Regions from separate parts of the Homo sapiens genome. Here regions 2, 3 and 4 are each linked to region 1. Evidence: fine-mapped expression QTL. A gene starts in region 1. Each other region holds a variant in brackets. All regions are shown on one strand. Distances are between the middles of the regions.

Region 1 (2,686 bases):
TTGATCTTACAGGGGTTACTTCCTTGGGGAGACTGAAAACAGCTAGGGTTCTGGATTCTGACAAGCCGGGGACTGAATACCGACATAGTCACTTGCTGTGTGACTCTGAGCAAGTCACTTTCTCTCCCCGAGCCTTGGTTTTCTCCTCTGGAAAATGGGTCAAATAATCTTTCCCCTCTGAGACGCGTTGAAATGATTAAATAAAGTGATACACAAAAGGCAAATCCTCACCCGTAGTAAGCACTCATGAATCTTACCGTCCTCATCACGTAAGGACCTGGTGCAGAAAAAGACCAGTCACTGCTTATTGGGCATTTATTCTGTACAAGGTTTAGTTATAAGAGATTTACATATATTGCCTCATTGATATTCACCGCTGCCCTATGGGTGGGCACTATCATTTCTCCCATTTTTACACATGAGTAAACTGAAGTTCAGAGAGGTTAAGTGACTTGCACCATGTCACACAGCTTGGCACCCAGTAAGTGTTCATTGTGACTGTCGCGTGAAATGTGCAATACAGCACCAAGCACAGAATTAGAGCTCAGGAAAGAAAGAATTCTGCTAGGCACAGTGGTTCACGTCTGTAATCCCAGTATATGGGAGACCAAGGTGGGAGAATTGCTTGAGTCCAGGAGTTCCAGACCAGCCTGGACAACATAGTGAGACCCTATCTCTATTAAAAAAAAATTAGCTGGGCATGCACCTGTAGTTCTAGCCACTAGGGAGGCTGCGGAAGGAGGATCGCTTAAGTCCAGGAGTTGGAGGCTGCAGTGAGCTATGATCACATCACTGCACTCCAGCCTGGGTGACCGGCGAGAACCTGTCACTGAAACGAAACGAAATTATTCCCATGGAAGTGAGATCCAGAAGGCAGGGTGGGACTCAAGCTCTAAGGAGCAGCTGGGAAGAGGGAAGAGGCGTTAGGAGCGTTCACAGCGGTCCGCGGCAGGTGCAAGGGAGGGAAGGCGAGGGGGTCTGGTGGAGCCTGTCTACACTGGGACCTCAGCGGTCTCCCAACTTGGAGGCTTGGGAGAAGAGGATCCCGCCTGTGGTTGACCGGGGGCGCACAGGCGGAGGAGGCGTTACCTTGGGCGGGAGGGCGAAGACCACCGGCAGCAGCGCGAGCGGCGTGAACAGCAGCACCAGCAGCCGCCGCGCGCTCCACACCTTCTTGGCCGCTGCTGCCAGCGCCGCCATCAGCGCGATCGCCTGGCGGTACGGGCCGGCCCGGGACTGCCCCGCCTGGCCCCGGCGCCGGCTTAAAGCCTGGGGGAGGGTCGGGGAGGGGACTGCGCTGGGGAACCCGCCCTCTCCCTGCTCCTCCTGGAGGAAAAGGGTGGTGCCTGCGCCCCTGGGACCGGGTGAAAGAGGCCCGGGAACGTTGGAGAAAGTTAGGCACTAGAATTAGCAAACGGGACCCCAGCCGCAGGGCAGTGTGGCCTTGCCTCTTGGCTTCCCAGCAATGTGGCCTGGGGCAGCTGGCTTATCCTCTCCTCGCCTCTGTTTACTCGCCTGTGAGATGGCTGAGGATGACAAGGCGAGGATTAAGGCGCGTACTCCTATTACCCGGGTTCAAATCCTGGCACGGCCACTTACTCACTGCGTGGCCTTCAACAACAGCCTCTGAGCCTGAAAGTGGAGTGGTGATAATAATAGTCTACACCATGGAATACTATGCAGTCACAAAAAAGAAGGACATCATGTTTTTTGCGGGAACATGGATGGAGCTGGAGGCCATTATCCTTAGCAAACTAACACAGGAACAGAAAACCAAATGCCGCATGTTTTCACTTATAAGCGGGAGCTAAATGATGAGAACACATGGACACATAGAGGGGAACAACTGACACTGAAGCCTATGGGAGGCTGGAGGGTGGGAGGAGACAGAGGATCAGGAAAAATAACTAATGGGCACTAGGCTTAATACCTGGATGACGAAATAATCTGTGCAACAAATCCCCATGACACAAGTTTACCTATACAACAAATCTGCACATGTACCCCTGAACTTAAAAGTTAAATTTTTAAAAATAGTCTACACCAGACAAGAAGGTTGTTAGGAAGTTTAAATGAGATAACACATGTAATGTGATTAGCGCAGTGTCTGGCAGAGCAGGTGCTCAATGAGAGTTATTGCTGCTGATGAGTTATTCTTATTTTTGGGTTTTTTTTTCTTTTTTTTGAGATGTAGTCTCACTCTGTAACCCAGGCTGGGCTGGGGAGCAGTGGAGCGATCTCGGATCACTGCAACCTCTGCCTCCCGGGTTCAAGCAATTCTTCTGAGTAGCTGGGATTACAGGCGTGTGCCACCATATCTGGCTAATTTTTTTTTTTTTTTTTTTTGTATTTTTAGTAGAGATGGGGTTTCACCATTTTGGCCAGGCTGGTCTCGAACTCCTGGCCTCATGATCCGCCCATCTCGGGCCTCCCAAAGTTCTGGGATTACAGGTGTGCGTCACCACGCCCGGCCGTTATTCTTATTTTTTTTTAAGGGGGGTGAGTCACTTCTATTCACTTCTGATTATTCTCAGGTAACCATACAGGAGTGCAACTGTTGGGTTGCCCAGTATTTGCAATGCTTAGCTTTTTAAGACACTGTCAACCTGTCTTCCAAAGTGATTGTACTATTTTGCACTTCCATCAACAATGTATGAATCATCCAGTTTCTCCACATCTTTGCCAA
Region 2 (2,686 bases), 100 kb before region 1:
TCACAGTCTAATTGAGGAGACTTAAATAGACCATTAGAGTTTAAGTTCATTAACAAAGAATTCTGAGCATAGTATGCCTGGGCCTGGACTGGGGTGGGATAGATGGAGAGTGACCCAGTTTTACCTGGGAGTCAGGAAGGCTCCCTGGAAGAGGTGACATTCCAGCTGGGGGTGGAAGGACAAGTGTCAGTTTGTGGGTGAAGAAGGGAGTTGGACATCCCTGACAGAAGGAACAGCGTGTGCAAAGGTCCTGTGCTCTGACCATCGGGAAATAGGGAGTTGGGAGAACCAGAACAGTGGGAAGCTGAGATGCAGTGAGGCCTGTGGGGCTGGAGTGAAGGTCACAACCTTGAAGCCCTAAAGGCTGAATCATATGCAAATGTGCCTTATTGTGGCCCACTCTGTGTGTGTGTGTGTGTGTGTAAGCTGCCCCCATTTGGAAATAAGGAAGTTTCACATTAAAATCTGGGTTTCCAGCTTTTCTTGAGAGATAAGAAGATCTGGGTTAGAGCTCCCACCTTTGCAACAGGTAGCTGGAGCTGAGTATCCACTACCCACCTTTGACAGGGGAGCAGCCCTGCAGACTGCATCCTGCTGATCAATGAACGGGTCCGTCTGCACACCCAGGTGGCCTTCCACAGGTGCAACCCCTTCCCAGCTCCCGAAGGCATTTGAATTTGGGACTAAACACCCCCTTCTACTATATAATTAATATTTGGAACACAGTAGCTTTTGGAATAATAGCTAATAATAAAAACAATTTTAAGGATTGAAAGCCAGTCCTAAGTCATATTGGATGACAATTCCTGCACGGGGTATTGAAAATGGCAAGGAAACTAGCTGCTGTTTAGTGAGTGCTTCCTCTGAGCCAAGCAGGTGCCAAGTACTAAGCATGTGTTTTCTCATTCAATTCTGGCAACAGTCTTGTAGATGTCATTATTACTTCCATTTCACAGATGGGGAACTGAGGCTCACAGAGAACTGAGGATTTGCCTAAGGTCACATAGCCAAGGAATGGCAGAGCTGAAGATTTGGGTTCATATCCATCACCCCCAATGGCTGACTGTTTTCTCACCTGTAGCCCTCAGTGTCCAAAGTCCCCAGACCTACCCGGTCTTGACAAGTTGCTCAGCTGCTCCTGGGTGGCCTGGCATGCTGTCCAAATGGCAGTGGTTTCAGGCGGGCGGTCGCTGGCAGCTGTGGCAGGTGGAGAGGAAGTGGGGGAATCGCTGGGACTTGGGAATCCCTGCCACTTCTGCTTTTCCACTCTTTAATGAAGCTCTCCTGGCTGCCTTGTCCCGCCCTTTTCGGGGCCCACCTCCCAGAGGGTTGGGCAAGCTGCCTCATCCTCTGCCCACAAGCAAGAGCGGGTGGAAGGTGTGGGAAGAGGAAAAGACAGCCTTTTCCAAGCGATGTCTCTAATCTTGGTAGCAGGAAGGTAGAATTAGC[C/T]CCATTTTACAGAGAAGGAAACTGAGGCACAGAGAAACCATACAGCTTCCCTTTCCCTCCCACTCCATAGTTGTGTGCCCCAAGGGGAGCCTGATCCCTGCTCTTGGGACTCACAGGTGATAATCAGACCCCTGCCAAGTACTGGGAGCAGTGGCTCTGGTCTCCTTCCCCAGCCCCCTTCCTGTCTTTAGCCTGACTTGTACCTCGCTTCAAATCTCAGCTCTGTCCCTCCCTAGCTATGAGACCTTGGGCAGGTGACCTCATATCTCTCTGCTGGTTTTCTCCCCTTAAAAAAAGTTTAATGAGGCTGGGCACAGTGGCTCACATCTGTAATCCCAGCACTCTGGGAGGCTGAGGGGGGTGGATCACCTGAGGTCAGGAGTTTGAGATCAGCCTGACCAACATGGTGAAACCCTGTCTCTACTAAAAATACAAAAATTATCTGGTTTGTGGTGGTGCATACCTGTAGTTCCAGATACTCGGGAGGCTGAGGCAGGAGAATCACTTGAACCTAGGAGACAAGGTTGCAGTGAGCTGAGATCACGTCACTGCACTCCAGCCTGGGCACAGAGCGAGACTCCGTCTCAAAAAAAAATAGTTAATGAAAATAACAGTTAACATTTATTGAGCACTTACTATGTATCAGGCATTCTTCTAAACAATTTCTCTTCAAATTCACTGAACACTTACTTTGAACATCCCTTTATGGTAAAGATGTTATTTTCATTCTTCAGCTCAGAAAACTGAGACTCAGAGAGCTACGTCGCCAACCACGCCACTCAGCTATTAATGGTACTGCCGTGATTTCTAACCAGCGGGCTGGCTTCAGGGTATACCAGTTAGCCACTGGGCTCTGCTGCTGTGGAGGGGATAATTCACAGACCTCGTGATTACTTCATAGTACAGCTGGTACTGCAAATAGTAGGTACTCAATAATGTAAATTCCCCACGCACACCCTCTGCAGTTAGTGCCCTGCAGGTCTGCTTTCAGGCTGTCCTGAAAGCCAGTTCCTACCTGGAATGCAGACACCTCTCCAGCATCTCTGTACCCCATCACTCCCAGCAGGCCTCCCCTGAGCCCCCCAGGCTCCCCCTCTGTGGGATGGACCAGTAGGGGCACAGCCACTTTCCCTTATAAGGACATGTTGCCTGGGTCACTCTCAGGCCTGAAGGGGAATGTCCTGCGGCCTGGATAGGGGAAGTGACGTTCTTATAGTTACACAGCGATTGAATGGAA
Region 3 (2,686 bases), 330 kb after region 1:
GGCCATGGGCCTGTGAAAGCTGCAGGAGGGAAATCGCTTACTCAGGGAGAGCCTGGGGAAATCCTGCCGGAACTGAGGCCTCTGCAGGGTGAGCAGGAGGGACTGGAGTTCCAGGCAGAGGGAACAGCATGTACAAAGGCCCTGTGGCAAGAGGGAGTGTGGAGCGAGAGAAAGGCCAGCGTGCTGGAATCAGATATTGGACAAGGAGAAGCCAGATCAAGGCTGTGTTCGGAACTCTTTGCTTTATCTTAAGAGCAATGGAAAGCCGTCAGAGGTTATAAGCAAGGATGAGGTGAGGCGGGCAGGTTCAGATTTATGCTGTCATTTGCTGCACAGAGAACAAACTGGAGGGAGGCCCCGGTGGCCCCAGGGAGGTGGGCAGGGGGGCTGCCGTGGTCTTCCTGGGCAGAGAGGATGGTGGCTTGGACCTGGGCGATGGCCATGGAGGTGAACTTTATAAGGCCTGGAGATGGATTGGACGTGAGCATTGAAGGAGAGGGAGAAGTAAGAGCAATCCTGAGCTTTTGGTTTGAGCAACTGCCCCCGAAATGGGGGAAGCCAAGATGGTTTGTGATTCACAGATGTATTTTGAATGGAAATTGAATGAGGCTGGTGGAGGCTGTCAGAGACGTCCAGGTTTGGGCCACAGCTGCTGTCTGTCCAGAAGCCTGTGATTGAAGTCAGCAGGCTTTGATTTCTCAGCCCGTGAAGGATGCTGGGAGTGACCCTCTCCAAAGTCCCCTTAGCCGACTGGCCATCTGTCCTCTGCATCTGACAGACAGGGCCACCATCCTCAGCCAAGGTAGCTGGTGTACTCACGGGGGTGTGGAAAGGTGAGCGGCCCACCCGCCTGGGACCCTCCATCTGCTTTTGATCCCTCCCAGCCTTTGAAGCTGCCCCTGCCCCCACCCTCCAGCTGTCATCTCTCGGGCTCCCCCACTTCTTCCCAGTCCCCAGGGACAGGGGTGGTGACAAGGGTAACAAATGGCACAAGCCGCAGGCAGCAGCAGGCCAAGGGGGCCAGAGGGAGGGTGTTCCTGAATGCCTCTTTCTTCCCGCTCCTTCAGGCTGTCTTCTGAAGTAGCCAGGCTATCAGGGTTTTGCAACAATGCAACAAAGAAAGAATTTTTTTTTTTTGTAAATGAATTCCATGCTTTTCCTTCCTTTCCCTTCCCTGCCTTCGTGAAAGGGAAGCTAAGTCTTTCTCCTACCCCAGATTCCTTGAAGGCTGTCTGAGTTCTCTCTTCCTTCCCCTGCATAGAGAATAAGCTGGTCTCCAATTTCAGGTAATTGTGAGGTGGGGAAGAGTGGGGAGAATGTGAAGGAAGCCTTCCCCACCAAAGTGCAGCAGAGCTCAACTCTGCCCCTCAAACCACAATAGGAACCAGTGGTTTCCGGGTGATCCTGATGACAGTTTCCAGTGTCTACCTGGAATGAAACGAATGGTGTGTTTCAAGCCTTTGTCTGTGTGCATGCAAATAATCTCAGCTGCCCTTTGTTGAATACCCACTCACTCGTGCCTTCTCTGACTCATTTTTCTCAGAATAACCTGGCGGGGAGGGTATTATTTTCTCCATCTT[A/G]TAGAACTGAGGCTCAGATAAGTGAAATAACTTGCCCAAGGTTACACCGCTGATAACGACATAGCTGGGATTTGAACCCCTGGAGCAGATAACACGTCTGGTGCTCTGACTGGGTAGCTTAGTAGACTTTAGAGCTGGATGGGCCCTGAGTTGAAATTGTGATCCAGAGCTATTTGCAAGCTGTGGTTAAGAGCACAGATCTGGAGCCAGATCACCTGGTTGAGAATCCTGACTCTACCACTGACTAGCCAGGTCAGTCTCTGAACCTGTCTCCTTATCTCTACCTACTTCATAGGATGAAACGAGCCAGTGCATGCAGAGAGATTTAAGCCTCAGCGTAAATGCTCTGTAACTGTGAGCTGTTTTTATTTCTAGTATCTGTAAACTAAGCAATATAATTAGGGCCAGGTTAAGACCTTTAGCAGCCTCAAACACCAGAGACTGGCCTCTCTCCTCCATTGTCTCCTCCAATACAATAATAAAACGGTGTGGTTCGTAAGACAAAAAACTCGCTGTGCTGAAATTTTTTTTACAATTTTGTTTAGTTTTGTTTTTTATTGATACATAATAGATGGACATATTTTCAGGGTGCATGTGACTGTTTGATACGTTCATATAATGTATACAGATCAAATCAGCATAATTGGGATTTCATCCCCTTAGATATGTATCTTTTCTTTATGTTAGCATCATTCAAATTACTCTATACTCTGGCTATTTTGAATGTGTGATAAACTATTGTTAATTATAGTCACCGTACTGTTCTATTGAACACTAGCTCTTATTCCTTCTAACTGTATATTTGTACCCATTAATCAACCTCTCTTCATCCTCCCCACCACCCTTCCTGGCCTTCAGTAATCACAGTCTACTCTCTATCTTCATGAGATCTACTTTTTTAGCTCCCACATGTGATTGAGAACATGCCATATTTGTCTTTCTGTCCTTGGCTTGTTTCACTTAACATAACGACCTCCAGTTCCATCCATGTTGCTGCAAATGACAGGATTTCATTGTTTTTTATGGCTGAATAATATTCTAGTGTATATGCATACCACATTTTCTTTATCCATCCATCAATTGGTGGAGTGCGCTGACATTTGAAA
Region 4 (2,686 bases), 36 kb after region 1:
ACAAAAATACAAAGCAATAAAAATAAAAACATGTTAACATGAATTTCAGTTGCCTGAAAGCTGTAAGTCTGCTTTTTTAAAAGAGAAATTGGAGTTAAGCAGACTTTTCATTTTTTGATCATGACCCTGAAAGAGAAATATATTTGACATCAAAACTCAGCACATATCCTTGGTCTATATATACACGTGAAAGTTTCATAAAACAATACACTGATATTTTCCATGCTGTATTCTATTTCATTTTTTAAAATGCTGGTTGTATCCCATTAAACTGGTTTCAAAATAAATATAACATGTACACAACAACAACAAAAAAAAACACTGGGTTAGAGGGCCAGTAAGCTCAGCGAGTATCAGCAACTGAGACTTCATCCTTGTCTCACAAGGACTAAAAAGAGAATAATGTTCTCATTATGTGGTTCAATGCCACACCCATGTATCTGAGATATACATGTCACAATCTGGGAGAAGCCTGTCCTCAATTTACTTTAAATACCCAATTCTGCCTAGAACATGACTTAGACACATAGTAAGCTCTTGAGTGAAGTGCAGATGATAATGACACGATCACATACCACTTAAAAATATCTTAACACCTTTACTTAGATCTCATCTCATACTTGTAGCATTTCTTCAAATTTACTTTGAAAAAAGAGCTTCACTGTGTGTGGTTGTCATACACATTCTTCTACCCAACCATGGACCTCTTTCTTCCTCTCAGGCGCACTTCATCTAATTTTTTTAGCACTGGCCTGGCCTTTTTGGAGGAGGTGGAGTAGCTCTTCAGAAAGGCTTCAAACACAGTTTCAGTGTTGGGATGGGTACTGAGGAAGGCCTTCTCCAGGACATAGAGGTCTACTCCCTTATCCTCTGGAAGTGCTGAAATGAAACTCAGCCCAAAGTCTATGAGCACAATGTTCAGCTGTTCCAGGGGGGGTTTCAGGAGCATGTTGGAGGTGGTGAGATCACCATGAATGAGGTCTTCATCGTGCATTCGAGCCAAAACCTGCCCAATTGTCTTGGCTAAGTTGGAGAGACCCTGGGGAGTTTTTTCAGTCTCCATAGTGGACTGAATATAATCT[C/T]GAACAGTCACTGAGCCTTCAATTTCTTCCATATATAAGCAGTTGGAAGCATAGTCCACAAAAAAGACAACTGGGGCAGATATTCCTGAAATCAAGACATAAGTGGTTATTGGGTTGGATTTTTTTTAACGGGTAAACTTAATTTTCAAAGATTAAGCCAGTTTTTCCATCTATATCTACTTATTTCAGGACTATTGAGGAATGCTACAGGAAATGGTACAACTGAACTCATCTGGAATATTCCCCTGCTCATGCCCACTGCAGGACTATGCCTGGGAACACCCCACAGCTAAACTGAGGAGGCCATAGCTTCCTCCTCCCTTCCAAACCACCCTTTCTCACTGGACTTCATTTGTCACACTCACTCTCTAAAAAACAAACAAAACAAAGGCCGGGTGTGGTGGCTCATGCCTGTAATCCCAGCACTTTGGGAGGCGGAGGCAGGCGGATCACTTGAGGTCAGAAGTTCGAGACCCCCATCTCTACTAAAAATACAAAAATTAGCCAGGTGTGGTGGCTCACGCCTGTAGTCCCAGCTACTCGGGAGGCTGAGGCAGGAGAATAGCTTGAACTCAGGGAGCGTAAGTTGCAGTGAGCTGAGATTGTGCCACTGCACCACTCCAGCCTGGGTGACAAAGTGAGACACTGTCTCAAAAAACAAAAACAAAGAGCAAGGCACAGCCCAGTCAGAGCAGTTTCTACTGATGAGGACACAAACAGGAGGCCAAGCAGTGTGCTAGCTTCGAGGTTCATCTTCGTAGTCAGAGAGGACAGGGTTCAAATCCCAGCTGCTTTTCTTATTAGTTGTCTAATCTAATCTTAAAATTACATTAACTTCTCTAAGCCTCAGTTTCTGCTACTATACAAGGAACAATAGCTCCAATAAACTCAATGAATCTTTACTGAAAGTCAACCAGGCTCAGTATACTTTTCTAGAAACTGAGAGATGTTATCAATGGGGATACAGCAATAAACAAGCCAGCTATAATACAATCTCTGCTTAACGAAACAGATCATGAGGCTGAAAACAGAAATATGAATACACAAATAACTTCATGAAATCTTAAGTCTCTGAAAGGGCAGCAATGTGTCCGCTTGTTGGCTACTGAATATCCCCCACCCAGATCTCCCAGCACTTAACAATGTCCTGGTACCCACTGGTACCTAAAAAATACTGATAAAAGAAAGGCAAGAAGCGTAAAAGTAAAAAGCCAGGGCTTCTGAGTCAGAGGCATAAGGAGCTGAGGGCCTGGACCGGCCACTTAGTAACCGTGTAACCTTGGGCAAGTTACTTCTCTCTGAGTGTCACTTTCTCATCTGAGGACAAAGTTTATGGTGCTGGCGCACAATGATGTTTAATGAAAAAATAGGCAATTTAATGAAATCCAACATTTATTGGGCACTATGTGCCAGGCACACATTTGAACATAATACGTGACACACATACCTCCTCTAATGGTCACAACATCCCTATGACATGGATACTGCTACTATGTCTCCCATTTTACAGGTGAGAAAACCGAGGCTGAGAGGCTAAATAACTTGTTGAAAGGCTACACAAGCAGCAGAGTTAGTATTTCAACCCAGGGAGCCTGGCTCCAGTG

Alleles and levels. Positions count from the first base shown, and alleles are read on the strand shown. Sizes are in standard deviations (SD) of each study's normalised expression. Not every link is listed here.
In carriers of allele C in region 2, the expression in adrenal gland of the gene that starts at base 1,238 in region 1 tends to be higher than with T alone (moderate effect, 0.70 SD a copy in GTEx).

The links.
Region 2: its variant is fine-mapped to the expression of SLC13A3 in adrenal gland (GTEx, PIP 0.98).
Region 3: its variant is fine-mapped to the expression of SLC13A3 in cerebellar hemisphere (GTEx, PIP 0.96).
Region 4: its variant is fine-mapped to the expression of SLC13A3 in whole blood (TOPMed, PIP above 0.99).

What each region holds. Positions count from the first base shown.
Region 1 is chr20:46,650,222-46,652,907 of GRCh38, forward strand. It overlaps SLC13A3 (solute carrier family 13 member 3), which reads right to left and starts at 1,238. Exons shown (of 13, transcript NM_022829.6): 1 at 1,090-1,238. The coding sequence starts at 1,200.
Region 2 is chr20:46,549,407-46,552,092 of GRCh38, forward strand. OCSTAMP (osteoclast stimulatory transmembrane protein) reads right to left here and starts at 1,248. Exons shown (of 3, transcript NM_080721.3): 1 at 1,111-1,248. The coding sequence starts at 1,154. The variant C/T (reference allele first, on the strand shown) is at 1,450.
Region 3 is chr20:46,978,345-46,981,030 of GRCh38, forward strand. The region is part of intron 1 of EYA2 (EYA transcriptional coactivator and phosphatase 2); the gene reads left to right. Among named protein-coding and RNA genes, the nearest start is that of EYA2-AS1, 78 kb to the left of the region's middle. The variant A/G (reference allele first, on the strand shown) is at 1,581.
Region 4 is chr20:46,686,065-46,688,750 of GRCh38, forward strand. It overlaps TP53RK (TP53 regulating kinase), which reads right to left. Exons shown (of 2, transcript NM_033550.4): 2 at 1-1,167. The coding sequence ends at 689. Among named protein-coding and RNA genes, the nearest start is that of TP53RK-DT, 1.9 kb to the right of the region's middle. The variant C/T (reference allele first, on the strand shown) is at 1,083.